4 linked regions of the Homo sapiens genome follow. The protein of the gene in region 3 interacts with the protein of the main gene of each other region in a biochemical or structural test. Each region holds a gene or a part of one and is shown on either strand. Other genes may lie near its edges. The genes, in order: UBE2F, CPT1A, TRIM2 and TMEM106B.

What was found.
Region 1: the proteins of TRIM2 (region 3) and UBE2F form a complex in vitro, tested with the Homo sapiens proteins (one study listed by BioGRID).
Region 2: the proteins of TRIM2 (region 3) and CPT1A form a complex in vitro, tested with the Homo sapiens proteins (one study listed by BioGRID).
Region 4: the proteins of TRIM2 (region 3) and TMEM106B form a complex in vitro, tested with the Homo sapiens proteins (one study listed by BioGRID).

Annotation. Positions count from the first base shown.
Region 1 is NC_000002.12:238,018,998-238,026,024, reverse strand, and holds part of UBE2F (NEDD8-conjugating enzyme UBE2F), read right to left. Parts: intron 684-7,027; coding exon 613-683; intron 1-612. UniProt on the Homo sapiens protein: Accepts the ubiquitin-like protein NEDD8 from the UBA3-NAE1 E1 complex and catalyzes its covalent attachment to other proteins. Together with the E3 ubiquitin ligase RNF7/RBX2, specifically neddylates cullin-5 (CUL5).
Region 2 is NC_000011.10:68,768,907-68,775,933, reverse strand, and holds part of CPT1A (carnitine O-palmitoyltransferase 1, liver isoform), read left to right. Parts: intron 1-501; coding exon 502-618; intron 619-2,504; coding exon 2,505-2,669; intron 2,670-7,027. UniProt on the Homo sapiens protein: Catalyzes the transfer of the acyl group of long-chain fatty acid-CoA conjugates onto carnitine, an essential step for the mitochondrial uptake of long-chain fatty acids and their subsequent beta-oxidation in the mitochondrion.
Region 3 is NC_000004.12:153,270,430-153,277,456, forward strand, and holds part of TRIM2 (tripartite motif-containing protein 2), read left to right. Parts: coding exon 1-90; intron 91-5,463; coding exon 5,464-5,701; coding exon of another isoform or gene 5,702-5,740; exon of another isoform or gene 5,741-5,839; intron 5,840-7,027. UniProt on the Homo sapiens protein: UBE2D1-dependent E3 ubiquitin-protein ligase that mediates the ubiquitination of NEFL and of phosphorylated BCL2L11. Plays a neuroprotective function. May play a role in neuronal rapid ischemic tolerance.
Region 4 is NC_000007.14:12,207,237-12,214,298, reverse strand, and holds the start of TMEM106B (transmembrane protein 106B), read right to left. Parts: upstream 3,006-7,062; 5' UTR 2,874-3,005; intron 99-2,873; exon of another isoform or gene 1-98. UniProt on the Homo sapiens protein: In neurons, involved in the transport of late endosomes/lysosomes. May be involved in dendrite morphogenesis and maintenance by regulating lysosomal trafficking.

The sequences.
Region 1 (7,027 bases), on a different chromosome or scaffold from region 3:
AAACCAACCAATCCACCTACACAACTTTTCCAGCAGCCTTAGGAGGAGAAATCACTGATGCCTGACGTTCTGCCCATGCCAGGGATCAGGGACACAAGTCACAGCAGGCATGAAGCTCCGAGAGGCTGCCTGCCCTAAGTGCCCTGACATCTATCAGGACCATTTTGGTAGAGAGAGGGCAGCTTAAATACAAGTGCCCAAGGTCGTCTCAAGCCTGCCATCTACATTTTTTCTCCTGGGTATCTATCATTAATCATATTTTCTCATCTTAGCTAAAATCAGCCACATGGAGGGAATGTGGTCTCTCATGTAAATAGGAGGGGAACAAGGCAAGGGACTCCAAGGGTCCATCCTGGGCAGGCAAGGAGGCTGCACTAAGAACTTAGTAGGGCTGTGGCCCCCAGAGGGCCAAGAGAAGACACTCGTCTGGAGGCAGAAGGTAGGGTAGGGTTTGGGAGCAGGCAGGCAACCGCAGCTACTTCAGCTGAGTTCAAGCCCTTCCTAATCTTGGCCATGCCTCAAAATCTTTTCAGAGGAGACAACATGTTTAAAAGCCCAACGCTTGCACATGACACTCACGAATGTAGAAGAAAGAAAAGACAATAAACTCACCTCAGACATATTTCCCCTGTCTCTGTGATGTTGGGGTGCCAGATCTTGGTCAGGCATTTCACTTTGGGAGGCTGCAACACAGAGACAATGAGAGAGATCACGCCGACAGTCTCTGCAAATCACATCTCCAGGCCAGAGCCTTACCACATCCCCTATCTAGACGCTTGTTTCATGGCTGACTCAGTGTGCAGTTTGACTCGCTGAACACGTGTTCAACCCTGAATACTGGCTCACCTCACCCATGAGGCATGTGTTGATGCGCTGCATCCACAAGGGCTAGTCTCAGCAGCAAAGTCTACCCGTGGGCTTCTGAGCACCTCTCTACAAGCCCCATGTGTCCTGCCGGCTGACAGTGCTGGTGACTGGACCTCTGTCACCTCCCACACCCCCTGGGTTTGGGACTGCAGAAGGTATCCACAGTGCACTCTAAGGAATAGTTCTACATCCTCTGGGTCCAAATCCAATCAGAAGCCCCAGATTCCTTTGCAATACAAGTTACTATGGCTGAAAGTTACTGCTCCTTGCAAGAACAGCCTGTTCCATTTGCTGGATTTTTCTGAAGATGCTATTGTCACATACGTTTTCCTAGATGAAAGCCCTAGTCCACTTTACATTTAAAGGAGAGAAAGAGAATGAAAATGAATTTGTGGGGATAAAGTATATCAACATCATTTATGACTTGGCATGTTTGGATAAAGTTCTTTTAAGATTTTTCTAGTTTGGGCATGGTGGCTCACTTTGGGAGGCCACCTAAAAGAAGAAAATATAATTAATGATAGATACCCAGGAGAAAAAAATCTCAGCACTTTGGGAGGTCGAGGTGGGAGGATTGCTTGAGGCCAAGGGTTTAAGATTAGCCAGGGCAATATAGTAAGACCCTGTCTCTCCAGGGAAAAAAAAAGAGCTGGGCATGGTAGCTCCTGCTTGTAGTCCCAGCTACTCAGGAGGCTGAGGTGGGAAAATCACTTGAGCTCAGAAGTTGTAGGCTGCAGTGAGCTATGATCGCACCATTGTACTCCAGCCTGGGTGACAGAGCGAGTCCCTGCCTCCAAACCAGAAAACCAAACCAAACCAAACCAAACAGATTTCTCTGTTACAAAGGCAATCCATACTCAGAGAGAAAAGGACAACACAAATGAAAAGAAACATACGTAAATATCTAATAAATTCTGCTGTCTTTCACTTTTGTTTTTTATGTAAGAATATATACACTCCATCAAAATGCTACCCAGAAATTATGTGACACCTGATGTACATGTGTTTATGCCTCTTTTCTAGGCCACACACATAGTGTGCATGCAGCATACTCATTTTTCTTTATAGAAGAAAGCTGTGCTACATATGTTTTAGTTATTTCTGCCATCGTTTCAGATGGCATCCTGCATTCCATGGTACACCTGCCCGAGTTTAATAGGCACTTCCCTACCTCTGGGCCCTCAGGTTGCTTCCTCTTCTCCCAACCCTGCTCTATCAATGCAGGGTTCATCCTGGGTGAAATGTTTCCTCAGGATGAAGCCCAGGAAGAGGATCTGCTGGTCATAAACCCTAGCTTCTGATACACTGCTCATGTCCTTCAGAAGATGTGACACCCCGCCCGCCAACCCCACCACAACCTGCAGTAAGGGAGAGGGCCTCTTCTCCAGGACCTCCCACAGAAAGGTCCCCTTGGTTAATATGCAGAAGTGTCAAATCACAGGATCTCATCAGAAAGGTCATCTCAAAAAGGAATCAAACCTTTGTGAAATGGGTAACATTTTCCCTGTGTATCATCTGCTATTAACTTTTATTTATGATGCTTTCTGAGGAGTTTATTTTTGTAATCAAATTTTTATCTTTGATGCCATACTTAGAAAATACTTCACCATCCAAATATCCTCTTTAACTTTCTAGTAAACTTTTATAGTTTCATCTTTTTATTTATTTGTATAAAGCAAAAATACTTTTTCGACACTATAATGAGCATTCTTCCTAATTTCAAAATACCACAAAATCAGTAGATTCCAAAAAACTGATTAAACTGACTGTGCAAATCCATGTGTCTGAGGACAAAGAATTTAGGTTCAGAATGAGTTTAAATAAATTTCACATTGTGCTTTTCTACAAATAAATGGGAATGTATTTAATAGAAAGGAGGAACTGCATCTTTCCCTTCTACTGAGGCATTTGGGCTGCAGAGGGAAGGTCAGACTGCCATGAGGGGCAGGGCTCTGTGCCCCCTTCTGGGTCACTGGATGGTGGCAGGCTAGTGCTAGGCCAAGTCACCAACTCTCAGTTTTTGTAGGAACCTAGAAAATTGGCAAACTCACTCTCCCTCCCAAGCAGGTACCCCTTCTGCGGAGGCCCTCACACATGACCATGCAGCCTGGTGCTACCACATCTCCCAAAGGCTTGCGGGTATTCGCCCTTCCTCCTGTCCCCTTCACACCTTCCATAATTTGATGTTAACACAGATACCTCCTTTTGTCAACGGTCCTCTTAACTGTGGTTCCAGAACAGAGGGCAAAACTCTGCACCTGGCTTCTGACATACATACTTTCCAAACTGAATTAGGCCTGTAGCCCCTTCCCCCCAACCCCAGTGGCCCACAGCTAGACCAACAAGCAATGCCCAGCCCTCCCACATTCCCCCTCAGTGCTTGGCACGGCCACCATCACTCACCCTGCCAGAAGCCTAATGTATGACAAATCTGGCCTCTCAAACCAACAGAGAACTGGGTTATTTGGTGGGTCACTGGCTACCCATTTGGAAAAACACAGTGTTCCAAATGCATTAAAATTAAACATAAAAGAGAATTATAGGACTAGAAGAAAATGTAGATGACCATCTTGGGGTCTGAAGGCTGCTTTAAGCATATCATAACATACAAAACTCAAGCAGTGAAACAAAAAAACCAAACTTGTATAGAACAACGACTAAAGACGGCAAATGCAAAACAAAGAAAGTATTTACAGCATAGCTAAAAAACTGAAGAAAAAAGTTTCACATACTTTGCTTGTAAGGACTCTAGTAAATCTAGAAGAAAAACAAATATCCCCAATGGAAACATGGGCAAAGGACATAATAGCAGCTCATAAAAAATATAAACAGCTTATTAGTGGGAAATACTATTCAGCATCCGACTTAAGAAATGAAAATATAATGCTTGAATCCAGGAGGTGGAGGTTACAGTGAGCTGAGACTGTGCCACCGGACTCCAGCCTGGGGGACAGAGCAAGACTCTGTCTCCAAAAAAAAAAAGAAAAGAAAAGAAAAGAAAAAGAAATGACAATCGGATATTAAACGAGATACCATTTCCTCCCAAAATGGCAACAACAACAACAAAAAGGCAAATATTCTACCTTGGTAATTGCTTAGGGAAACGGAATTTTCAAACATGGATGGTGAGGATGCCAACTGGCATTCCTCTCTGCAAGGTAATTTAATAGGATTTATCCAGAACCTTAAAATGGAGCATCAATTACTCAATACCCATAATGCCATGTCTAGGAACTGATCCAGAGGAAAGAGGCAGACAGACATAAGATGCATGCCCCAGACTTACCTCACAGCCCTATTTATTCTGGGGCAGCAGACCACAGCCTACAGACCAAATCGAGGCTGGGACTGTTTTCACATGGTCAAAGACTGGTTTTTACATTTCTAAAAGGTTATTGAAAAAACAAAAAAGAATATGGGACAGAGACTATGTGGTCCACAGAGCCTAAAATATTTATTGCTTAGCCCTTTACAGAAAGTCTGCTTTATACTGCAAAAGGTTGGTCAACCAGTGACCAATGATAAAGGACTGGTTTAAATGATACATCATACAAGGAAGTGCTCTTATTAATAATGATGCAATTGTGCATTGACTGACATGAATGTGTACGTCCATCATATTATGACGGGAAAGCCCCAAGTTACCAGACTATGTGTAGCATCGCCCCATTGGTATGTGGAATTTATACTGTCTGCAACAGACATTAGAGAGTCAGGGTGATCATCTCTGGATGGAGAGATTACAGGTTATTATTATTCTATTTTTGCATGGCCGTGTTGTCTCAATTCCCTACAAAGTCTGATAATTTCATATGAAGAAGAAGGGAGAGTGGGAGTTCAGGTGTCACTTGTGGTCGTCATCACTGCTGTTCAACAAGTGTCTCTGGCTCTCCTCCTCCAGGGCCCATGGCAGGACTGGCCTTCCTTAGTCCCTCCGGGCTGGCCATGGTCATGTTATCTGATTTGGCCAACAACATGTGAGGAGACGTGGTGTCTTCACTTCCAGGAGGAAACCAGAGCCAAGAACAAAGAGCTGTAATCCTTTCTCCTGCTACAGCACACAGCTTCCTCCAACCAGTCCTGACCGACGCACCTGAGGGCTGTGTGACACCACAGGCCAGCTAGGGTCTGGGCTAAGGCTCTCTCCTCCTCCAAGGCATCCCCAGGCCATGTCACGTGCTCCTCCTCTGGGCGTCCCCACCAGCCTGAGGAATAGCCGTCACCCACATCACCACCCGGGCTCCTCATTGTCATGTCAGCGTCTGTCTCCCCAGAGACTGAAATTCTTAAAAGGCCACCAAGTTCCCATCCTTGGCCCTCCAGTGTCTGACACGGAGCCTGGCACAATGTAGGAGCCCACTAAATGTCACTACATCCGTTTGGACAGTTTCTAAACTGACAAATTACAAGGCAGGCTTTAGGCTGGGAGTTAAACTGCAGAGGCAAAGGAACAAAAACACAAAGAAAATTTGAATTTTGGCTGCTGGGATATTGGGTGGGGTGGGGGATTCCAAATGGACATTTTTCTTTTAAAAGTTTATTCTAAAATAACGATCGACTTTATTAAAGGTTTTCCACATTCACAGTCTTAATAACAGACCTTCACTGCAGGAACTGTAACTCTTAGGAGACAAGTCCTTATGAAGTACAGAAATTGTGTCAAGTCAGTCATGGCAGTGAAGCAGATGCACCCTGAGAAGCCCCAGCCCATCCCTAGGCTCCGCACTGGCTGCTGTATCCGTTCTCACTGACCCACCTGGTGCCCTCAGAGTGTGCCCTCACACTCTATCCTGAATGCCTGTGCCTATGTGATTTTCCTATGCTGACTGAATTATTTCATCTCTTTTCTACACTAAGTTTGTAGGGGGCAGAGAGAGGGGCAACCACTGAACAATTTGTGTTTTTGCCTAGCATGGCAGGCACAAGCTACACACCGGAAATAGTGTGGGCAAGACAGCTGGCACTCCCTCAGGGCTCACAGCCCAGTGGGAAAGAGATGCTCAGGAGAGTCTGTAAGCAATGATTCATTATAAATATGGCAAATGCAACTACTTTTGTGTTCAGCCAAGTACTACACCCTAATGATCCCCTGGAGACGCCCTGCTGGGGACACCAGTGACATATGCTGGCCCCTAGAAGTTGCCCCACACTTGCCTGAATGAGAGGCAGACAGGAAGAAAACAAGAGAAGGGAACAGGAGGCTGGGTTCAGTGGCTCATGGCTGGAATCCCAGTACTATGGGAGGCCAAGGCAGCGGATCACCTGAGGTCAGGAGTTCGAGACCAACCCGGCCAACATGGTGAAACCCCGTCTCTACTAAAACTACAAAAATTAGCCGGGTGTGGTGGCAGGCACCTGTAATCCCAGCTACTCCGGAGGCTGAGGCAGGAGAATTACTTGAATCCAGGTGGCAGAGGTTGCGGTGAGCTGAGATCATGCCATTGCACTCCAGCCTGGGTGACAAGAGTGAAACTCCATCTCATTAAAAAAAAAAAAAAAAAAAGGCTGAGCACAGTGGCTCCCCAGCACTTTGGGAGGCCGTGGCGGGCAGATCACCTGAGGTCGAGAGTTTGAGACCAGCCTGACCAACATGGAGAAACTCCGTCTCTACTAAAAATACAAAATTAGCTGGGCGTGGTGGTACATGCGTGTAATCCCAGCTCCTCAGGAGGTTGAGGCAGGACAATCACTTGAACCCGCAGGCAGAGGTTGTGGTGAGCTGAAATCGTGCTAGCCTGGGCAACAGAGTGAGACTCTGTATCAAAAAAAAGGCAGGGGGGACAGGAAGGAAACGCTGGGGAAAGGAGAGGAAAGGACCCTACAGAAGCAGGGTAGGAACATGGTTCATGCAGAGCCACCAGCTGCTCTCAGTACTTCTGGGTTTGAGAACATGGGGTTTTATTCCTGATGAAATCTGACCAGCCCATCATTTATGAAACTTCCAAAAGAGACAGCAGTGGAAATAGAAAAATGTAAGATCATCGTTACAGAGCTAAAGGTCAAACACAGCACACAGAACTTCAGAAAGGCTGCATGGGAATGATGTTTCCCCACAGGGACTAGTAGTGGGGAGGGGAGAGGGGGGCTGGGGAATAGCAGGTCTGAGACAAGGACAGGAAAATTTAAGCCTTACCCCTCCACCTCAACCTCTGTGCCAGTC
Region 2 (7,027 bases), on a different chromosome or scaffold from region 3:
TCTGAACATTCTGTACAAGTTTTTGTGTGAGCATCTATTCATTTCATTTCAGTGAGTATGTACCTAGGAGTGGAACTGCTGGGTCATACAGGTATATTTCACTTTTTAAGGAAGGGCAAGAATTCTTGTCTGTTTTGTTCACAAAACACAGTTCTTGTCTGCGCTGTCACCAGGGCTTGGATGCCGCTGATGCTACAGTGGTTCCAACCCATAGTAGGTGCCCAATAAACACCGTTGAATAAATTGGCTTAGGTTTACTTGCCAGTGAAAGGAGAGCGTCACAAACTTGAGCAAGCCCTTAGCCCTCGTCTGTCCTCTCTCTGTCACATCTGACATGGAGATCAGATCCACCTCATTAGGTGCTGAGCATACTGGAAGCCTTAACAGCTGTGATTCAAACTTTGTAACATCTCTGCAAAGAACAACCCTCTCTTCATGTTGGAGGTTAATGTGTTTTATGTACCACTGTTAGTTTTAATAATTTTGTTCTATTTTTGACAGTACGTCATGTCCATTGACAGCCTCCAGCTGGGCTATGCGGAGGATGGGCACTGCAAAGGCGACATCAATCCGAACATTCCGTACCCCACCAGGCTGCAGTGGGACATCCCGGGGGAAGTAAGTCCGGATTATCCAACCATTGTTACTTACCTGGGATGGGAAACACATTTGAAGTCTTACAGATGAATTTTCCAACCGTAGTTCCTGCCCTATCATGAGCTCAGTTGAAGACCACTGAGGCTGAAAGTTGTTTGCTCAGGGAGTTCCGTGGGTCTGCGGGGCTGTCACAGCTCCTGTTGCCTCGGAAGCCTCGGTAAATATTTCTTCTTCTGTTTGAAGCTCCTGGCTAAGACTGTCAGCGCTATTTCCAGCTTAAACTTAACTAGACATCTACAGAATGCTCATAATCAAAAACTAAAAGCCAAAATCACATAGGTTAGAGCTGAAAGCCTCTAAATTGCTCATTTATACTTCTCAAAGTTTAATTCATTTTGGCACCTCTTAAACATGCTCAGAGGCAGCCCATTCACAGGAGCCCTTTTGGGAAGGAATTTTAGGGTTGCAAATACCAAATCCTAGTTCACTTAATCCAAGGAGAAATTCCCTGGAGTCCAAGATACCATTTTCTTTTTCTTTTTTTTTTTTTTTTTTGAGATGTAGTCTCGCACTGTCACCCAGGCTGGAGTGCAATGGCGCGATCTCAGCTCACTGCAACCTCTGCCTCCCAGGTTCAAACGATTCTCCTGCTTCAGCCTCCCAAGTAGCTAGGATTACAGGTGCCTGCCACCATGGTGAAACCCCGTCTCTACTAAAAATACAAAAATTAGCCGGGCATAGTGGTAAGTGCCTGTAGTCCCAGCTACTCCGGAGGCTGAGGCAGGAGAATGGCTTGAACCAGGGAGGCAGAAGGTGCAGTGAGCAGCGATGGTGCCACTGCACTCCAGCCTGGGCAACAGAGGGACACCCTATCTCAAATAAATAAAAATTAATAATAAAAAGTAAAAAAATGTGTTTCTTGATTGCCACTGTGTGATGACGTCATCATAAGATGACGTGTGACTATTTGAAACACCCTTTGGGGTCTCACTGGAAGCCAGGGTGCCCCCGTCCCCTACCCATGTTCCTGTTAGCGTCAGAACATATCTGTACGGGTCTGCAGCAACCTCAATTCTTGCCTTCTCAGAACGAATTTGACTGTGGGGCAGAAGGCAGGAGAGACCAAGTTTAAAAGCGGGAAAGTTTATTTTAAAAACTTTAGGAACGAAAGGAAGGAAAGTACATTTGGAAGAGGGCCAAGCGGCCAACTTGGGAGATTAAGTGCGAGGTTTGACCTCTTGACTTGAGGTTTTATACATTGGCATGCGTCCAGGGTCTTGTGTTACTTCTCCCAATTCCTCCCTTGTTGTGGGCTGTCCGCATGCACAGTGGCTCCAGCGCTTGGGAAGGGAGCATGCGCAGTATGTTTACTGGAGTTGTGCGCATGCTCACTTGAGGTGTTCTGCCCTTGCCTGTCTAGCACTGCTGGAGGAAGCTCATAGTCCAGTTAGACGCCGCCATTTTGCCTCTCAGTGCGCATGCTTCAGCCCACTCGCCCAACGCTTGAGATCTTATCGGGAAGCTGCTGGTCACCAGCTCCATTTCTATCTACTGAGAGACTGCCTTTCCCTGGCACCGGCTGTGACCTATTATTATTTTAGAGAGACAGTTCACAACCACCTGACCATCACTGATGGTCGCGTGATATTCCCAGTGTGTGTCGGAGGAAGCCCTCTCCTGGCCTGCTCATGTCAGACCCGCTACCTGCTATAACATTGCAGCTGCTCCTCCGGGGTCAGGGAGCCATGCCCCTAACTTACTAGGGCTTCTGGGTCAGGAAAACGTTTGTGTACTTCCCAGTACCGAGTTTATAGCTGCACTAAAAACCAGCCTCCAATTTCCTTCTGGGTGTGCGTCAGTACTTTTCTCCCCTCGTTCCGTAAAACCTTTTTCTTCTTTCTCTCAAGTGTCAAGAGGTTATAGAGACCTCCCTGAACACCGCAAATCTTCTGGCAAACGACGTGGATTTCCATTCCTTCCCATTCGTAGCCTTTGGTAAAGGAATCATCAAGAAATGTCGCACGAGCCCAGACGCCTTTGTGCAGCTGGCCCTCCAGCTGGCGCACTACAAGGTAAGAACTGACCGCCTAGGGTTTTGTCGTGAGCACTTTGGGGGTTCCTACACCTGCCCAAGACTGTTCACCCAGTGGGGAGGGAAGGCCCGAAACCCGGCATAGGAGAAGCACAGCTCCCCCCGACCCCGGTCTCCGGGGGCCGGGTGGCGTTGGGTGTTTCACCACGCACGCGGGCAAAGTTCGCAAATCCCCCTCCAGCAGGCGTAGATTCCCAGCTGACACGGGAGAGGGAGAGTCTGGGGGATGAGGACAAAGTGAGATCTCATCACTCTACAGAGGGAGAGTTAAGCCCCATAATAAGCCCCGAATCCTAGCATTTGCTAAAGTGGAAATAGTGTGGGCAGGTAGGGGAATAGTCAGTTACGTATTCGTCTGGCGCTCGGTAAATCTGCACTTCACACAGGTCAGGTGAACATGGTCCACGTTTCATCTGTCGCTCTCTGCTTGGGAACAAAATAAAAAGCTTCTTGCATGACTTAGCTTTCAGCTTAATCCTTTCCTTTTGGCAGAGTAAATCTTCCTTTCACCATACTAAATTAAATTTTGGTATTTTCATACAGTGGAATATTATATAGCTATTAAGTGATGTCTTTGGGCAAATTACTTAACGTCTCTGGCCTTTGACATCTCCTTCCATAAAAGGAGAAACTCCAGCCACTTGGAGGTGCCATGGGCTGGATCCCCTGTATACACATGGCATTTCCATCTCCCTTTTCTGAGCACTGGCCATATTTTGGCTTGCACCTGGCAACCCCTGTTGGAGGAGCAGCCTGCACCCCTAGCAGGGACATAAATGGGTCTTCTTGTCCATTGGAGGGAGCATTCCATCCCAGACAGGGGGCCCTTGGTTTCTGGGGGCAGCACAAGTCATCGTGGCATTGGCTTGAGATATTCCCAACTTTTTTTTTGAGACAGAATCTCACTCTTGTTACCCAGGCTGGAGTGTAATGGCATGATCTCGGCTCACTGCAACCTCCACCTCCCGGGTTCAAGCAGTTCTCCTGCCTCAGCCTCCCGAGTAGCTGGGATTACAGGTGTGCGCCCCCATGCCCAGCTAATTTTTTGTATTTTTAGTAGAGATGGGGTTTCACCATGTTGAGCAGGCTGGTCTCGAGCTCCTGGCTTCAGGTGATCCACCCGCCTTGGCCTCCCAAAGTGCTGGGATTATAGGCGTGAGCCACCGTGCCCAGCCTTGTATTAAAACTTGAGTGCTGTACACATATGCAGCGTGTGGCACTGCCCCCCCAACCTTGGTAACGATTGTGCCATTGTTGAATTTTGCTTGGTGCATCATGTACCTCATGCTTCACTGTCTCTGCACCTGGGAGGCACTCTTGTTATCCCATTTTTAAAAATTTACAAGTCCCCATTATGCCTCAGAAAATCTTGTTTTCCCATTTTACAGGTGAGGAAACAGGTGCAGAGAGGCCAGGTGCTTGCCAGGGTGGCACTAGGCAGGGATAAAGCGGGCCAGCGGCTCCAGAGTCTATGCTCTCTCCACCTAAAGTTAAGAAAACAGTTACAGAGAAGTAAGAGGCAGTGTTAATATCAGATGAACTGGAATGAATGGGCCAAAATCGTATTTAAAATGCATGCTAATACAGTCTGTAAAGACTGTCACAGTTATGAAGCCTTGCTTTCCCAAGTAACATGCTCACTATGCGTAAACCAGAAGCAGCTGGGCAGAGTACCAGGAGCACAGTGACAAGCTCCTGTCTGTGACAGATCATTGACTAAAGATCATGTGATTAAAAGGTGACATGGAATAGAGGCATCGCATCTCAGAATCAGTGAGCTGGATTTTGAGAATTGATGAGCAGATTTTGCCCGTAAACGTGCAGTATGAGGGCATGCAAGCAGTTGATACCTTACCTACAGAAAGGATGTTATTTTATCTTTTTAAATTTTTTTCTTTTTTAAAAGAATTCCCTGCAAGTAAGCGCAGGACTTAGGAGTTTAGTAAGGAAATGCCACGCTCCAGTTTAGTACATTTTGAAACATGCTGAAATGACTATTCTGCAAGCAGTACAAATTGGTGACGTTGACTCAAGGTAGAAAACCTGAAAAGGCCTCTGGTCCAGGGACCAAAGTGAGAGGTTGTCAGGGAGCCACCCTTGTGACTCCAAAGAGCTTGCAGCTCAGAGACTCCACAAAGGAAGCCACCCCATCTGCTCCCCAGAACCCACGTGGCCCAGGTGTGGGAATGAGCTGCAAGGGGCACCAGCCACTGTGCCATGTACTTGGCAGGAGCGAGCGAAACTTCAGGACGGCCCCGAGGAAGGCATCTCTTCATCTCTGCCCTCCACACTCGGAGGTGAAGCATCTTGCCTGAGGGCTCCAGCTCGTACGCAGCAGGACTGAGATCGGAAGCAGGCAGGCTTGTTCGAGAACCTGTGGCTCTCATCACTGTGCTGCAGCTAAACGCAGAAAAAGGAAGCACAGACCAGCTTCCCGCATGAATGGAAGTGCAGAGACCCTCCATAAAATCTTAGCAACTAGAATCCAGCACTGTAGGAAAAGAATAGTCACCCACAGTGGCGTACACCAGCGGTGAGAGGCTGGTTTTGTGTCAGTAAATCCAGTCATACACTAAACCATACTGTTGGGTCAGAGAAGAGCCTAGATAGTGAGTTTCACAGATCCTAAGAAGACGTTTCACGTTTAACATCCATTCCTGATAAGAGCTCTTGGTCAAGGGGCTTAGTAATAGGGCTCTTTCCTTAACAGGATAAGTGGCATCGTGTATTAATAGCTAGCTACTGCTTCAAAGTAAAAGTGTGGGAGGCAGTCCCCTTAAAACAAGAAAGATGAGGATGCCTCTAGCAGATGACAGGGTAATTGGGCAGGAAGAACATTTATGTCTGTTCAGGAGATGGAACAGCAGAAAGGCTTTGACGATTAAGAGGCACACCCAGTGAGCCGGCCCAGCGCAGAGTTGCACAAAGACCACCAGCTTTCTTGCACAAGGATGATGGCCAAGTGGGAAATATAATAAGAGAATGTAATAGAAACGAGAATCTGGGGCCCCACCTTCCAGGCATACGTGTATAAAGCAGACTGGACTCTGGGAAGAAGGCCGAGGAGCACTCGCCCCCCAACTCCTCCCCAGGGAGAGGGAGAAAAAGCCATGATTTTGGATGAAAAAAAACTTCAGAACCATAGAGGAAGGGATGTTCCCAGTTCACACTGTTTTTTTTTTTTTGAGACGGAGCCTTACTCTGTTGCCCAGGCTGGAGTGCAGTGGCACGATCTCGGCTCACTGCAGCCTCGGCTGCTCACTCGGCTCCCAGGTTCAAGTGATTCTCCTGCCTCAGCCCCTCGAGTAGCTGAAACTACAGGTGCCTGCCACCACACCTGGCTAATTTTTGTATCTTTAGTAGAGACGGAGTTTCACCACGTTGGCCAGGCTGGTCTCGAGCTCCTGACCTCAAGTGATCCGCCTGCCTCAGCCTCCCAAAGTGCTGGGATTACAAGCCTGAGCCACCATGCCTGGCTTAGTTCACACATTTAATATGAACACAGTGAGAGGTCAGGCAGGGGCTTCAGGAGAGGAGCTTGCCCAGTTGATCTTGAGGCTTGAAAAGGCTAACATTTGAGAGTCACCTGTAACATTTTTGAAAAGAAAAGCAATCAGGCGGAGGCAGGACACGGGGAGGTGGACATGTACTTTTTCAAATCCTAAAACTTAAAGTGTAGGAGTTAGAAGACTGTTGTGATTAAAGTGGTCTCAGTCCTATAATCCTAGCACTTTGGGTGGCTGAGGCAGGTGGATCACTTGAGTCCAGGAGTTTGAGACCAGACTGGGCAATATGGGGAGACTCTATCTGTACAAAAAATACAAAAAAAAAAAAAAAAAAATTAGCCCAGCATGGTGGCGCATGCCTGTAGTCCAAGGTACTCCGGAGGCTAAGGTGGGAGGATCACTTGAGCCCCGGAGGTGGAGGCTGCAGTGAGCCGTGATCGTGCCACTGCACTACAGCCTGGATGACAGTGAGACCCTATCTTTAAAAAAATTGTTTTTAATAAAAATAAAATGCTGCAGTCCTCGTACAAAAGCAGGCCTGGGAAATAACGTGTAATGGAGGGAGCATTTGACATCAGTAGGGGACGGGGAGCTGGTGAGTAAATGGAGCTGGGAAATCTGGCTAAGTGGTTGCCTTTGGAAAAAAATAATCCAAGAGAAATAAGGAGTCAGACCAGAAACTGTGGTTCACAAGAGAGGAAAAATACGGTCAATGAGTGTAGGTAATAAGCTTAATCTTACCAAGAATCTAACAAGTACAACTTAAACAAGACTAGATTTTTGCCTACGGGGTTGGTAAAGGCTTTTTTTCATGTTGGTGAGGGTGGACTGA
Region 3 (7,027 bases):
GATTGACAAGCAGTTTCTGATTTGCAGTATATGCCTGGAACGGTACAAGAATCCCAAGGTTCTCCCCTGTCTGCACACTTTCTGCGAGAGGTAAGCCTCCTTTGTGCTTGGAGAAGGGAGTTTCGCAGGCTGACCTCCTACAACCTACTGCAGGATTCTTTCCCAGAATTCTACAGTTACCTTTGAGAGAAAACTAATCTCTTGTGCTTCTGCCAGACATTGAAAAACAGAATCATGAGTTGCAAATAATTTACTTTATTTCAAACCATTATAAGCAAGAGAAAGCAATCCAGTAACTACTGATTCGTTTACACAAGAGATGGAGCATTAAATAAGAATGTTAAGTTGAAAAATCTTTTAAAACTTCCCTTTGTTCTTTGTGAAACAATTTTTGTCCACAGCAGATCCCTACAGAGGGTCTTTCAGAGTCAATTAAAAAAATCTATCATTTCCTCCCATATAACAAATCAGGTAAAACATCTGCATACATGAGTTGTTACTTCAAAAGGTATAGCTTCTTTTTCAAAGATTCTTCAGACACATACTAATGTCACATTTGAATGCTATGATGTTTTAGATAAAGAAAAAATATATATTAAATAAATTACCTGACTATGTAATTTGCTGTATGTGAAAACAGACTTCCTTATTTATCTTCTTCATAGAGTATTTGTTTTTGGAGAGGGGCGTTAATCAGTTATCAAAATATACTTTTACCCCATTGTTTAACTTACCATGTAAGCAATTAAGCATAAGTTTGTTAGTAATTAGTTTATCTTACTTATAAATATTTCCCTAGTAAAGTTATGTATCTTTCTTAAAAATAAATATGGTAATTGTGTTTTATAGCATTTTGTTAAGTACATTTTTATCATTATTTAATATACATACTTAAAATGCTTTACTTCCTGTGATAGAACTGGAAATCAGTATTTCAAATGGCTTCAAATCTATGCTGATTACACAAATATCTGATTTAACATGTCTTTATTATCTGATTGACCATTTTTTGAGTTGATTTACTTTGCAAGGTTCAATTGCAAAAGAATAACCATATCCTTCATGGTGGTGATGGATAGAAGGAGAAGGTAGATTTGTTACTAGTAGTTGTGGCTTTTTTGTTTGTTTTGGGTTGTTGTGGGGTTTTGTGTGTGTGCGTGTGCTTGTGTATATGGGTTTTGGTTTGTTTTAGTGGTGGTATATAGGGCACTTTTTATTTTATTCATTTTATACTTTGGCTTAAGTGCTTGGTAATTCATATTACAAAATAATTAGAGTGTGATTCCTCCATCCCCTTAATGGGTGCACCTAAAACATGAATACCAGCTAATAGTCCATGTGTCCCTGGGCACACATGGGAAGATCGTTACCTGATGTGCAGCAGTCGGCATAGCTTGGCTGATACTCTCTATAGAAGTGCATTCAGAGCCACTCAGTCTGAACTTGGCAGAATTGCCCCATATCCCAGTATTCAGTGTCCAGCCTATCTATTGTTTGGGTCCTACTTCCTCACTCTGACAGGTGAGAAGCAACACTCTGGCTGCCCTAGGTCTGCCCCTGCTATCTTCTTTGGGGATCTAGCCCAACCCACTTCCACTCCCCACCCAATAGCTGGTGGTAGAGATTTGTGAGATTCTGCTACAGCAAGTCCTTACACAATGCTCTGTGTTAAAATTGTTCCAGCCTCATGCATGTTGAGATGATTTCCTCTTCTTTTTTTATTTTATTTTTAATTTTGAGATGGAGTCGCACTCTGTTGCCCAGGCTGGAGTGCAGTGGCGCAAACTCAGCTCACTGCAAGCTCTGCCTCCCGGATTCACGCCATTCTCCTGCCTCAGCCTCCTGAGTAGCTAGGACTACAGGTGCCTGCCACCACGCCCAGCTAATTTTTTGTATTTTTAGTAGAGACGAGGTTTCACTGTGTTAGCCAGAATGGTCTTGATCTCCTGACCTCATGATCTGCCCAGCTCGGCCTCCCAAAGTGCTGGGATTACAGGCGTGAGCCACTGCGCCTGGCCAGATTTCCTCTTCTTTTATTTTTTATTTTATTAATTATTTATTAATTTATTTATTTTGAGACAGGATCTCACTCTGTCACCCAGTCTAGAGTGCAGTGGCACAATCACAGTTCACTGCAGCCTCAATTTCCCAGGCTCCAGAGATCTTCCCACCTCAACTTCTTGAGTAGTTGGGACCACAGGTGCACACCACCATGCCTGACTATAGAGACAGGGTTTCTCCATGTTGCCCAGGCTGGTCTCAAACTCCTGAGCGCAAGCAATCCAACTACCTTGGCCTCCCAAAGTGTTGGGCTTACAGGCGTGAGCCACTGCGTCCAGCCGAGAAGATTTCTGTTTGAAGGTGTTGAAGGTGCTGGCAACTTTCCTTAAAATGGGGTTTTTTGTTTGTTTGTTTGTTTGTTTGTTTTTGAGACGGAGTCTTGCTCTGTCACCAGGCTGGAGTGCAGTGGCGCTATCTCGGCTCACCGCAACTTCCGCCTCCTGGGTTAAGTGATTCTCCTGCCTCAGCCTCCCGAGTAGCTGGGACTACAGGCATGCGCCACTATGCCCAGCTAATTTTTGTATTTTTAGTAGAGACGGGGTTTCGCCATGTTGGCCAGGATGGTCTCGATCTCTTGACCTCGTGATCTGCCCATGTCGGCCTCCCAAAGAGCAGGGATTACAGGCATGAGTCACTGCGCCCGGTGGGGAAATTTTTGTTTATGCAGAGACAAAACTTTACAGCTTGTCTCACTGTCAGGAGAGTGAGCTCTAGGACCCCCATGTTCAGCCTCTGCTGGACATTCATACTGGCTACTCAGTGAGCACCTTACAGTCACTCTTTTTTTTTTTTTTTTTTTTTTTGAGACAGAGTCTCGCTCTGCCGCCCGGGCTGGAGTGCCGTGGCGCGATCTCGGCTCACTGCAAGCTCCACCTCCCGGGTTCACGCCATTCTCCTGCCTCAGCCTCCCGAGTAGCTGGGACTACAGGCGCCCGCCACCACGCCCGGCTAATTTTTTTTTTTTTTTTTTTTTTTTGTATTTTTAGTAGAAACGGGGTTTCACCGTGTTAGCCAGGATGGTCTCGATCTCCTGCCCTCGTGATCCACCCGCCTTGGCCTCCCAGAGTGCTGGCATTACAGGCGTGAGCCACCACGCCCAGCCCTTACAGTCACTCTTATCCCACATCTTCCAAAACAGCATCAAAAGGCTTGAAGGAGAGCAAAGCCAGACATAGCTGCTGGCCCCTTGGAACTCACAGCCTAGTGGAGGAGCCAGTCACTAACCCCCTAATTGCTCAGACTAATGTGAAATTAAACCAGTGACAAGTGCTGTACACCAGAAGTATACAGGAAACAATATAATAGAGGAATTTGCCCTAATCTGGGAAGGCTTCCTTGCAGAAGTGATGATTACGCAGAAACCCCAATGATGAGTAAAAATTAACTAAACAAAGGGGAGTGAATAGAATTTCAGGTATGTGCAAAGGTGCTATAGTGGGAGGTTGCTATAGTGAGTGAGAGGTGCTACAGTGAGAGGGTTATTCAACACTGAGGAAGAACTTAAATAAGTCCACTGTGGCTGGTATGCAGCAAATGAGGGGAAGAGACAGAAAGTATGTAGGTGCTAGGCCATATGAGATGTGTAATCCATGTTGCCATATATGGATTTTTGTCTTTGTTGTAAGAGCAGTGGAAGTGGAAACCATGGCATGGCTTTCATCTCAGATGGTGTGGGAGGGAGATTTAAATGGCTCTCTTTGAGTTTTGAGAAGGTCACTCTGGTTGCAATGTGGATAATTGTTAGAGGGTACAAGGATGGTTATATAGCAGGGCATGAAGAGAACTGGAGAGGTTAGAAAGATATGTAGGCATTTGGACATGCTTTGGTGATGGGTTGGATATGGAAAATGAAGGACAGTAAGGGAGTTACTGTTTTAAGAATGACTCCTAGTTTCTGGTTTGTTTAAATAAATGGATGGAGGTGCTATTCATCAGGAATGGGAGAGGATACAGTCTGGGGTTCAGATAATGGGTTTGGTTTTGTTCATGTTGAGTTTTAGGACCTGCAAGACATCTAAGAAAAGATGTCAACAGGTCAGTTAATGAGGCTCAAAGGAGATGTCTGTGGGAAGAAATATAATTTTGGGAGCCTGATGCTTGTAGCCACACCTGTGATATGAATATAATATTCCAGAAAGAGAAGAGGTCTCATGATGAATGGAACCTTGATTAACTCAAAACTGTATTGACTCAGAAAAGACAGAGCAGACAGGAGAACCATGTGAGTGTGGTGTCATAAAGTCAAGGGAAGAGAAATTTTTCAATAAAAAGGAAGGTGAGCAGAGCAATAATCAAGCTTAATGATACTTCCCAGAAGTCTAGTAAGATAAAATTGAAAAACATCTGCTGGATTCAGACGTCGTTAATGACCTTAGCAAAAGCTGTTTCATGTCTGGTATTGGTTCAGGGCTAGCTACCTCTGTGACATAGACAAGATCAGTGAATGTCTCTGATGTCAGGTCTATTCATCTGCAAAATAAGGGGAATGGGGCTAGGTTGGTGTGTTTTGAATTGTTTGGCTAGGTACTGGAAAAAATTGTATAGTCTAATTATTGAGAGCTTAGATTATGGTGCCAAACTGCCTGTGTTTGAATTTGTACTTTGTACTCTGCTCCTGACCAGCTAAGTATCTTGGACAAGTACGCTGGCCTGTCTCTGTCTGTTGCATCACGTGTCTCAAGGAATCATAACAGTACCTATCTCATAGGCTCATTGGAAGTACTTTGAATTCAATGAGCAGCATATGTGTGAGTCATTATTAGTGACACACTTCTTTAACTAAATGAGTTAAGTTGATACCTGTTGAGTAGAGACAAGGAGAAGAGATGGTGTGGCTCTGACTCTGGGTGTCCCATTCTTGCTTCAAGCAAATATTTCCACTTTGATGTGTTTTTTATATCTCATTATGATTTTGTACGTAAGAAGAATTTTATTGCTAACAAAAATATTTGATGTGTTTCTTTCAATTTCAAAGTCCACACATTTATGAGCCCACTGCTAGATATTGTGGGCCAGTGCTTCTCAAACTTTAACATGTATGCAAATCACATGGGGAGCTGACTCAGCAGGTGTTCGATAGGGTCTAAGATTCTGCATTTCTACCAAATGCACCCCCCAGGGAGGCTGACGCTGCTCATCCATGGACCACACTTTGTGTGCCAAGGCACTAGAAAACACTACAAAAGTCAATGACATTTTTTATTTCCTTGAGCATAATCATTTGCCTCATTAGTGTGAGTACAGCTTACCTGTTGGTTTCTGAAATATTATTTTCCTAGTAAAGGAGACTGGGATGGGAGTTTCTGCCAAATACCTTGTGTAGTCACTGAGAACATGTATGGTACCTGTGAGAAGTGGAGGTTCTGCACTGTGCTAAGCTCTCCACCTCTGCTTCTGCAACAGGTGCCTGCAGAACTACATTCCTGCCCACAGTTTAACCCTCTCCTGCCCAGTGTGCCGCCAGACCTCCATCCTGCCCGAGAAAGGGGTGGCCGCGCTCCAGAACAATTTCTTCATCACAAACCTGATGGACGTGCTGCAGCGAACTCCAGGCAGCAACGCTGAGGAGTCTTCCATCCTGGAGACAGTCACTGCTGTGGCTGCGGGAAAGCCTCTCTCTTGCCCAAACCACGATGGGAATGTAAGTGGCTGGGATGGCAGATACTGCCCGGGAGCATGACTACTGTGGCCTTGGGGAGGCTTTGGGTACATCAGAGATTACAGATTGAAACAGAACTCCATGTGGAAAAATCAGTAATTAAAAAAGATTTTTACCAGCCCTCAGACTACCTGCTCACTTTCTTTGACCAGAACTATTTAAATAACGAAATCAATCTCCACTGTGTCTCCTTCACACATATTGTTGGTATCCCCAGGACAGCAAACCAGTAGCTATTTGCAAGCTGACCTACATAAACATCTGTGTAATAAATTTATGGATACGGATTTAACAATGGATAAGTTCTGTAAGTTGAGAATGATTATTAAAATGTTAATTAGAGTTCTTTATTTTTCTTGGGAGGGAAATTTTCTCATGCTACATTAGACCTTATTCCTTATTAATAGATAGAATTTGAAGCTATGTGAATCCCTGATAGTAGATTATAGATTATGAATTCCAAACATATTTCTTGCTACTAGTGAGTACAATAACTGTTAGAAGCTCAGGAGGACCTGTGGGTACCATCAAGTAACTGATTCACAATAGCTATGTAACCTGAAGAGGCAGCATTGTGTAGCGTCTAAGGACATTGGCTTTGGAGTCAGGCTGCCTGATTCAAATCCTGCTCTTAAACTTATTCCCTGTGCCAGCTTTGGTAAGTTTATTAAACTCTCTGCGTCTCATTTCTTTATCAGTTAAAAAAAAGTAATAATAGTATTTACCATATAGAATATTGGAAGAATTAAATGTTCAAGTCATGTAAATCATATAGTAGGATCTTGATAAATGTCAGCTTTAACATTTTTTCATTAATTACTTTATATTCATCTCATTTGTATATTGGTCACTTCAAAAGTATTTGAAACTGCTTAAAACAAAAGGCCCAGGTATAACAAAACCACTAAGACAAGCAAGCAATCATTAGAGCAAAGCAATTCTTATTAGCCACACTACTGTTTGTTTACCTCATCTCCCAGCATTCTCTCTGCACACTGTGCTGGAGCCTCACCAGCCTCCTAGAACCTGCCAAATGGTTTCCCTCCTCGGGGCCTGGCTGTTCTGTTCCTTCTGCCTGGGTTGCTCTTTGTTTCCTCTTTATGTGGCGAGCTTATTCTCTTCCTTGAAGTCTCACTGCAAATTTCTCCTGCACACAGCAGTCTTCTCCACCTGTACCGTCTAACACAGGTTGCCTCTTACAGCTGGTTACCCTCCATCATGTCCCTGCTTTCTTTCCTCCCTGGTGCTCACTGTGGTCTGCTTGCCATCAGCTGTGTATTTGTGTACTTATTAGTCCTGGCTTTCCCT
Region 4 (7,062 bases), on a different chromosome or scaffold from region 3:
GGTAGCAGGCTTCAGAGAGAATAGTTTGTAAATGTCTCTTATTACTCCTTAAAATATTCCAGGCTCTTGGTTAAATCGCTGCTGAATTAGGAAAAGATCTGGAAAGGAAAGGGGATTCTGTACAGAATGTGGATCTTCCCCACGAGAGACAGCTTTGCAAGGCCATTTCAAAGAAATATATTTTGGGGTAAGATATTTCAATTTCTCTCAGGGCCTGCTATCTGTCGAGTGATTCTATATTAGAGTCAGGTTGGGATTTGATATCTTATTGCTACAAAGAGACTCTTGTTAGTCTTCAAATCTCTGTTTTAATTGATGCTGGTCAGTTGTGCCTGAATTCCAAAGAGAGGAAGGTACAACGGGGCATGTTCAATCCCCTCCACCCACCTTTTCATCATGGCCTGAACTACCTTTTTAGGTTTACTTTGGAATGCCCTTGACAGAGAAGCGGGTTCCACTTAGTTGGGGGGCTCAGAATTTTATTTTTGGTTTACAGAACAAACATTAAGAGAATGTTCAAACTACCTTTTGGATTATACCTTTTGGATTAGGATTATATCCAATCAAAATAATGTCTGAAACAAAGGAGCCATTTACTAGAGTCCAGAAGTGTTTTTTTAAACAAATAATGTGAAATGATGTCCTATCATGCTTATGATGAGAATGGGCTTTCAAACATTAACATTTGACAAAAGTCTACACCTGCAGGTTCTCTGAAAAGAAACATGCAGGTTTCATTTTTCTTAAAATAAAATAAAAATACATTCTACCTTTTAACTAGTTAGCACTAAAGGCAAAAATTGCTTTGGGTAGACGATAACTAGGTATTTGATGTATATCACCAAGTAACTTCAAAGTAGTACGTTTCAGCCTCTGAAAATTCACGCACCTTTGTGATAAATACAATCACCACTCTTTTCCATCCTTAAATTTCTTGCTTTAAACATTTAAACACTCGCAACAACAATAAAAAGCCCCAAAATTCCAAAATCACAGTTTTTTTTTCATTCAACAGTTGACAGTTAAAATTATGAAGCCAATGTTCCAAAATATTAAATATAAGTTACCAATACAAAGCAGCAAAATTTAGAACACTAACTTCAAAAATTTTAGGATAAGAGTATCAAAATAACAATACAAATGTAAAAATCTAAGTAGAAATAAATAATTAGTACTAGTGCCTACACAAAAATAACTTCTGCAGGTAGATAATGAAGTAACTTTATACTTAAGGTCATACCCTTTTAAAGCTGAAAAGAACTTAACAGTCATATAATACACCCTGCTGGTATTTTCCTGCTTATATCCTGAGAAAAAATAAAGTGAAAAAGTAAAACTGAAAAATAACATAATTATACTCCTTCTAAATTTGATATGTCTTTTAGCGGTTCCTAAAAATAGATTACATACATTCAGACAGATAGTATTTCTTTCAAAAATTCTCACTTATTTGATTAAACAAAACAGACATTCCAAGTAAGTCAGTTCATCCTAGAGTATGAAGAAAATTTTACTTTCTAGAACTGGCATGCCTGATAGGAGCCTGCTTGGTGGGTACAATGTGTGTTGCTCCAGTGCTGGATGCACTAAGGGCTCTGACTTCACCAGGATGTTGTGTATCAATGTAGCAAATGGCACTTGTACTCCATGAATATACACAAAATAAATACAAAGATAAAAAAATAAATAAAATTCGCATGCCATCCACTTGTTGCTGTCACTCAAATAAACAGAATTTAAAAAACTATACAAATGGTATGCAAACAAATGTAAAATGAGATTTTCACTCTTTCAAAAAAAAAAAACTATGTATTTATAAAAATCACTGCCCACATCAAAAATACAAATGATTTATGACTTCTAAAAAATCATTGTCTTAATCAACACCTGTCAGCCACAGGTAGGATAGGGAAGACTTAACATCACTGTCCCCACACACTGTAACCTTGGGGTCTATGCGGAACACTAGATGAATTGGGATCATTGGGCCTTATCAGCAAGGCCTTAAGGGCACTCTTTCTGGGATCTCAGTCAACACAGCCAGGCTGTAAGCTGCATCTTAACTGGAGCGCGTTGAGAAAAAAGACACAGAAAGGCAGACTCAAGTGGCTCTCCGTTTGAGCCTGTTTTCTGTCCTAATCTAATAGCTGCCATGATCGATTCTGCTTTAGGGTAGGTGTTTGGACAAGTGCCAGACTCTGTGAGAAACTGGGAATCCCTTGCCTTCTCTACTAGATTTTCCTTAGAGAACTGACAAGTGTAACCACTTTTATTCTTGGGAGACTCAATGGTTTAAAAAAGGGGTGCTAGACCCTCTTCTGCAACCTCTGTGGGCTCAGTGTTATTTATTATAGCGGTTCCTTAGTTTACTGAAAGTCAACATGGATATCAGACTCAGTTTGGAGAGAAAAAATATATCACAGCACTCCAATTTAAATGGCTCCTGATCTTCTGTGTAGACACTGGTTTTAGTTCTAAAAGGGCTTGAGAACTAAGGAAACAAGCGCCTTTGAAAAGCTCCATAAACAACACCTAGCACAAAGCCTACTCTGTAAAGCTGCAAAATAAGATCCCGGCACCACGGCAAGAACATTCATCAACAGCAAAAGGAAGAGGGCCACCTGGCGCTCAAGGTGTGAGGGCCTAGAGGCAACCCAGAGGTAGGGCTTGGGCCGAAGCCGAGTGTTCCCTGGCTGGGCCTCATTAGAGGCGACACAGCAACTCGATCACCAGCCCTGACCGCCGCCGTACCTGCGGCTGGCCCAGCACCCCAGCGGCCTCCCCTCCTTGTCAGGCCCGGCTCAAGCCGCGGCGCAGCCGCTCAGCCTCGCTCCGGAAGGGGACCTGGGGACTGCACGTCCGGGGTCGCTCACCGGCACGCGGGGCGCTGCGCAGTCCCGGGCTGCTTCGGCGCGGACAGGGCCGAGGACAGGGTCGTGGAGTCCACAGTCCCGGGAGCCGGGGGGTGGAGCGACCGGCCTGGAGCGCGCGGCCGCCGTAGAGCTGGGACGGGGGAGGGGTAGGATAACGACGGCATCAGCAGAGGCCAAGCGCTGCTGTAACCTGCGTCCGCGCCTGCGCAGAGCGCTCCCGGAGGGACACCCCTGGCGTGCGCGTGACGCATGCGTCCTTCTTCCTCCTGTTTGAGCCCAGAGGCGTCGATCGTGTGAGATTGTGCGCTCTTCAGGTTTCATTACCTTCGCGTCCCCCAGACTTCAAAGTGTCCACTGTAGCCACGAATTACCTAGGAACAGTCGCTCCTCCTATTTCCCATATCAGACCATTTCCTTTTGCAAAGGGTATAAATGTGCACCATCTGCCTCAGCTTTCAGCTGAGCAGCCTCCTCGCTCACGCAATGCGAGTTGTCGCTGACAGTCTGGTCCTTAGGAATGGAATAAACTGGTCCGTACACACGCCGCTGACAGCAGCAAAGCTACCTCTATTTTAATTTAGAAACTGGCCAACTAGAAGGAGACAGCAAGCGGCAAGGCCGTAGTTTTTGTTTTTGCTCGGTTTCGTTTCGCTTTGCCCACGCTGCCCCTCCCCACCCCTTAACTCTGGTGCTAGTTACAGGTGTGTGAAATCCCGTCTCGGATCCCAGTACTTAAGCTCTTCGCTGTGGGTTGGGGCTGCCCTCCCCCAACGTCTAGGTCATTTCACTTAGAAGATAAGAACAACGACAAGGAGTCGTTTTGAGGGATCAATGAGATGCCGGTAATAATATTAAGGGCACTCTAGTCTCATTCCTGCGGAGAGTTTAACGTTTAATGAATGGTAGGCATTCTTACAGTCACAGGAGCAAGGAAGTGAGAGTCATATATTTCTCTCTTCTAACAGGATCAGTGTGATCCTGTTAGAATCAGGGAATTCTAACAGGAATTGGGAAATGAAGCTATGTAAAAGTAGGAAATACAAGTCAGAACGATATACAATTTAAGAGGATTACTGTAGATCCATATGTGAGATAATGAGCTTTCTCATACAATGTTGTCGGAGATTTAAAACTCCTAAGTTTTCTGGCAGACAGTCAGTATGTATCAAGACTATTAAAATGTTCACATCGTTTGGTCCAGCAATTCCACCCTTTCAGAAGTATCCTAAACCTAATGAGAACTCTAAAAAGATTTGGGTATGAGGTGTATCCATTTAAATAAACTGAATGTCCAACAAGGGACATTGATAAAATCATTATTTTTCAACCGCTTTTATTTAGCCCATATTTTCCAAAGGGAAGGGTCAGGGTGTCTTCCATTAACACTGTTTGAAATTTCAAAATTAATAGGTTGGTTAAAACAAATCAGAATCATGGGGGAAAATTTTTCTCAAAATTATTGACAGTCCACCTGTGGAGATATGATGTTCCCCTTGGAATTACTGAGTTTTTAAAATTATGGAATAGCCATCTATTGAGTTTTTATAAAGCCAGTAAAAACCATCTTATAAGGCTGTTATACGCGGAGTGATATAAAATTAAAATCAGGATGCAAAGTATAGGATATGAGGTATTGTAATAGGATGTAAACTATATTCACATATAGATAACATATAGATATAAATATATTACATATCTGCCTTGAAATGGAAAGAAATATACAAAATATAAACAGTTGCCTGTAGTTTGAGAGCATGGATGTTTTTTCTTTATTATTGTTAAATAGGCAAATGGTTCTATAATGTAATATATATTATTCTTAAGTGAAAAAGTTACTTTTTTCTTTAATTCTTAAGGGAGTATTTAGTATTTTCTCAACCTCATCATTTAACTTAAAACGTGCTGGCCATATAGCACAGTTCCTTATCCAAATTCCTGGAATTCACATAGGAATAAGTCTTCCTGGGAGAATGTTGCTGTAAGAAGCAGTTCAGTAGCAGGGTTGGGAACACAGCCTTGGGAGCCATATGGCCTGAAAATGAGCCCAGCCTGACAGAGATATACAAAATCTCTGTAAGAGTGGGCAAAATACTTAGCCTTCTTTATACCTAATTTTTATTATCTGCAAAATGAAGATAGTAATAATGTCTGTCTCAAAGGGTTATGGATGGGAGCTGATACCTGCAGAGCAATCAGTAAATATTAGATATTATGATTACAAATTTATCATCCATATAACAAGGAAGTACTTTAAAGACAGATATTGAATGTTTGGTACATTTGTTCCTATGCCTTATTTTTCATTGAAGCACATTTTGAAAGGAAAATTTTCTGAAAAGCTTCCAATTATTTGATTAACAGTGATTTCTTGAGTTCCGAGTTCAGTAGTGGTCTAGGTGCTATCAGATATAAAGGCCAGTAATTTTAACAGTCTGGGATAAGTTTGAATAGAAGAACATTCTTTCTTAATGATTTCTGGTTATATTTAGTATGATGCTGAAGCTAAGGGATTTCTCTAGGTTGTACTAAATCTTGAAAACAGCCTTATCTCTCATTTCAATTCTCTTTTATCTCTTTTAATGGTAAATCACCCAAATCCTAATAGCAGTCAGCCATAACTAAAAATTTTGCAAAAATTACTTTTCTAGAAATTAGCTGTTAAAAATTATAAGCAGAAAAGGAACATAATTATTTTGAAACATATAATTTGTCAAATGTTAATATATAAGTCTCTCTCAGCTCACCCCCTTCCACTGATATGCTGGTCAGATTATGTTAGAAACCTGGATAGGTTACATTGGAAACCAGGGATTGAAAAGATTGAAGTTTGTCTGGCTGATTTTCAGAGATAGTGCCCCAGATACATAGCAAAACTACCATTAGCAAAACTACCATTTCCCGCTGTGCCACCTGACTTACATTCACAGGCAGTAAACTCCTGACTCTATTGACACATCTTTGTCATTCCAATTATTTTAAAAGCAGAGGTCTTTATTAATTTCTGCAAATAACTTACCTATCTGAAACTCTTGGTTATGTCTCTGTACTCCTTCTTAGGCAGGATCTTCTATATTTCCTCTGTCTCATTCATCTTGCTTCACACCTGCATGGAGCTAATCTTTCCCATGTGTTAAAACTTTCTTTCCCAAATATTCAAGTCATCTTTTGTAGGGTTTTTGTCATAATCATAATTTCTAGTAAGAATAATTTTAGGAGTTCAATAACACTTGGCCAATGAATGAATTTGTTGTGCCAGGCATTGTGTAAAGTAGTTTATATCATCTAATTTTTATAGAAATGCTATGGATTAGGTTCTGTTATTATCCCATATCTTATTTCAAACAGTGGAAATAGAGGATCCTAGGTATTATGACTTGCACATGACCACACAGCTAGCAACTAGAACTCGGATATTTTGACTGCAAAGCTACAGCTATTAACCACTGTGGCATGAATATCTGTATTAAATTTGGAAGAGTGAATTCTGTCCTCAACTTTTACTACACAAAGATAAGTGATGACGGTGAGTAAAGTTAACTGGTTAGGGGGGGAAAAGAGGGTATTTTCACTCTTTTGCTAAGTGATCATCACTGCTGCTGAAAAGAGGAGAATTGGGTCCAGAAATCCTTGAGGAGGTGTTCCGAATATAAAATAAGGAAAACACAGAGTCCAATTAGGATTTATGTTATAAAAGACTGTTTCTTCACAACAAACACAAGCTAGAGAAGGTTTTTTTTTTTTTAAACATTTTTAAAAAACTTATCAAAGAAATGAGGACGCAAATTTAAGTACACTTAAATCCAAAAGATAAGGAGAGCTTCCTAAGAGAGAATAGAATTAGAGTTGCTTTAATCACCTACAAAACAGTGGGAGAAGGAGGAATGCACCATAAACAGGGCCGAAGGGAGACCTGCCGAATGACACCCCTGTGTGTGGACCAGGATGATAGATTACAATCTCATGTCGTTCCAGTGATAGAACGAGTGTGCACTCACTCTCCAATTCTCTCCTAAAGGTCTTCATTAAGTGCTCAAATGTCATATGTTAAAGGCATGGGGTAGGGCATGAATGCTGAAGAAATTTCTTTGCAGATTCTAGGCCTTTAACCAGTGTACTGCAGCAGCTCTGTGAAGGCTGGAGGCAGGGTGGCAGGCTGCCCAGGATTCTCCTGAGGCACAGAAATGACCGG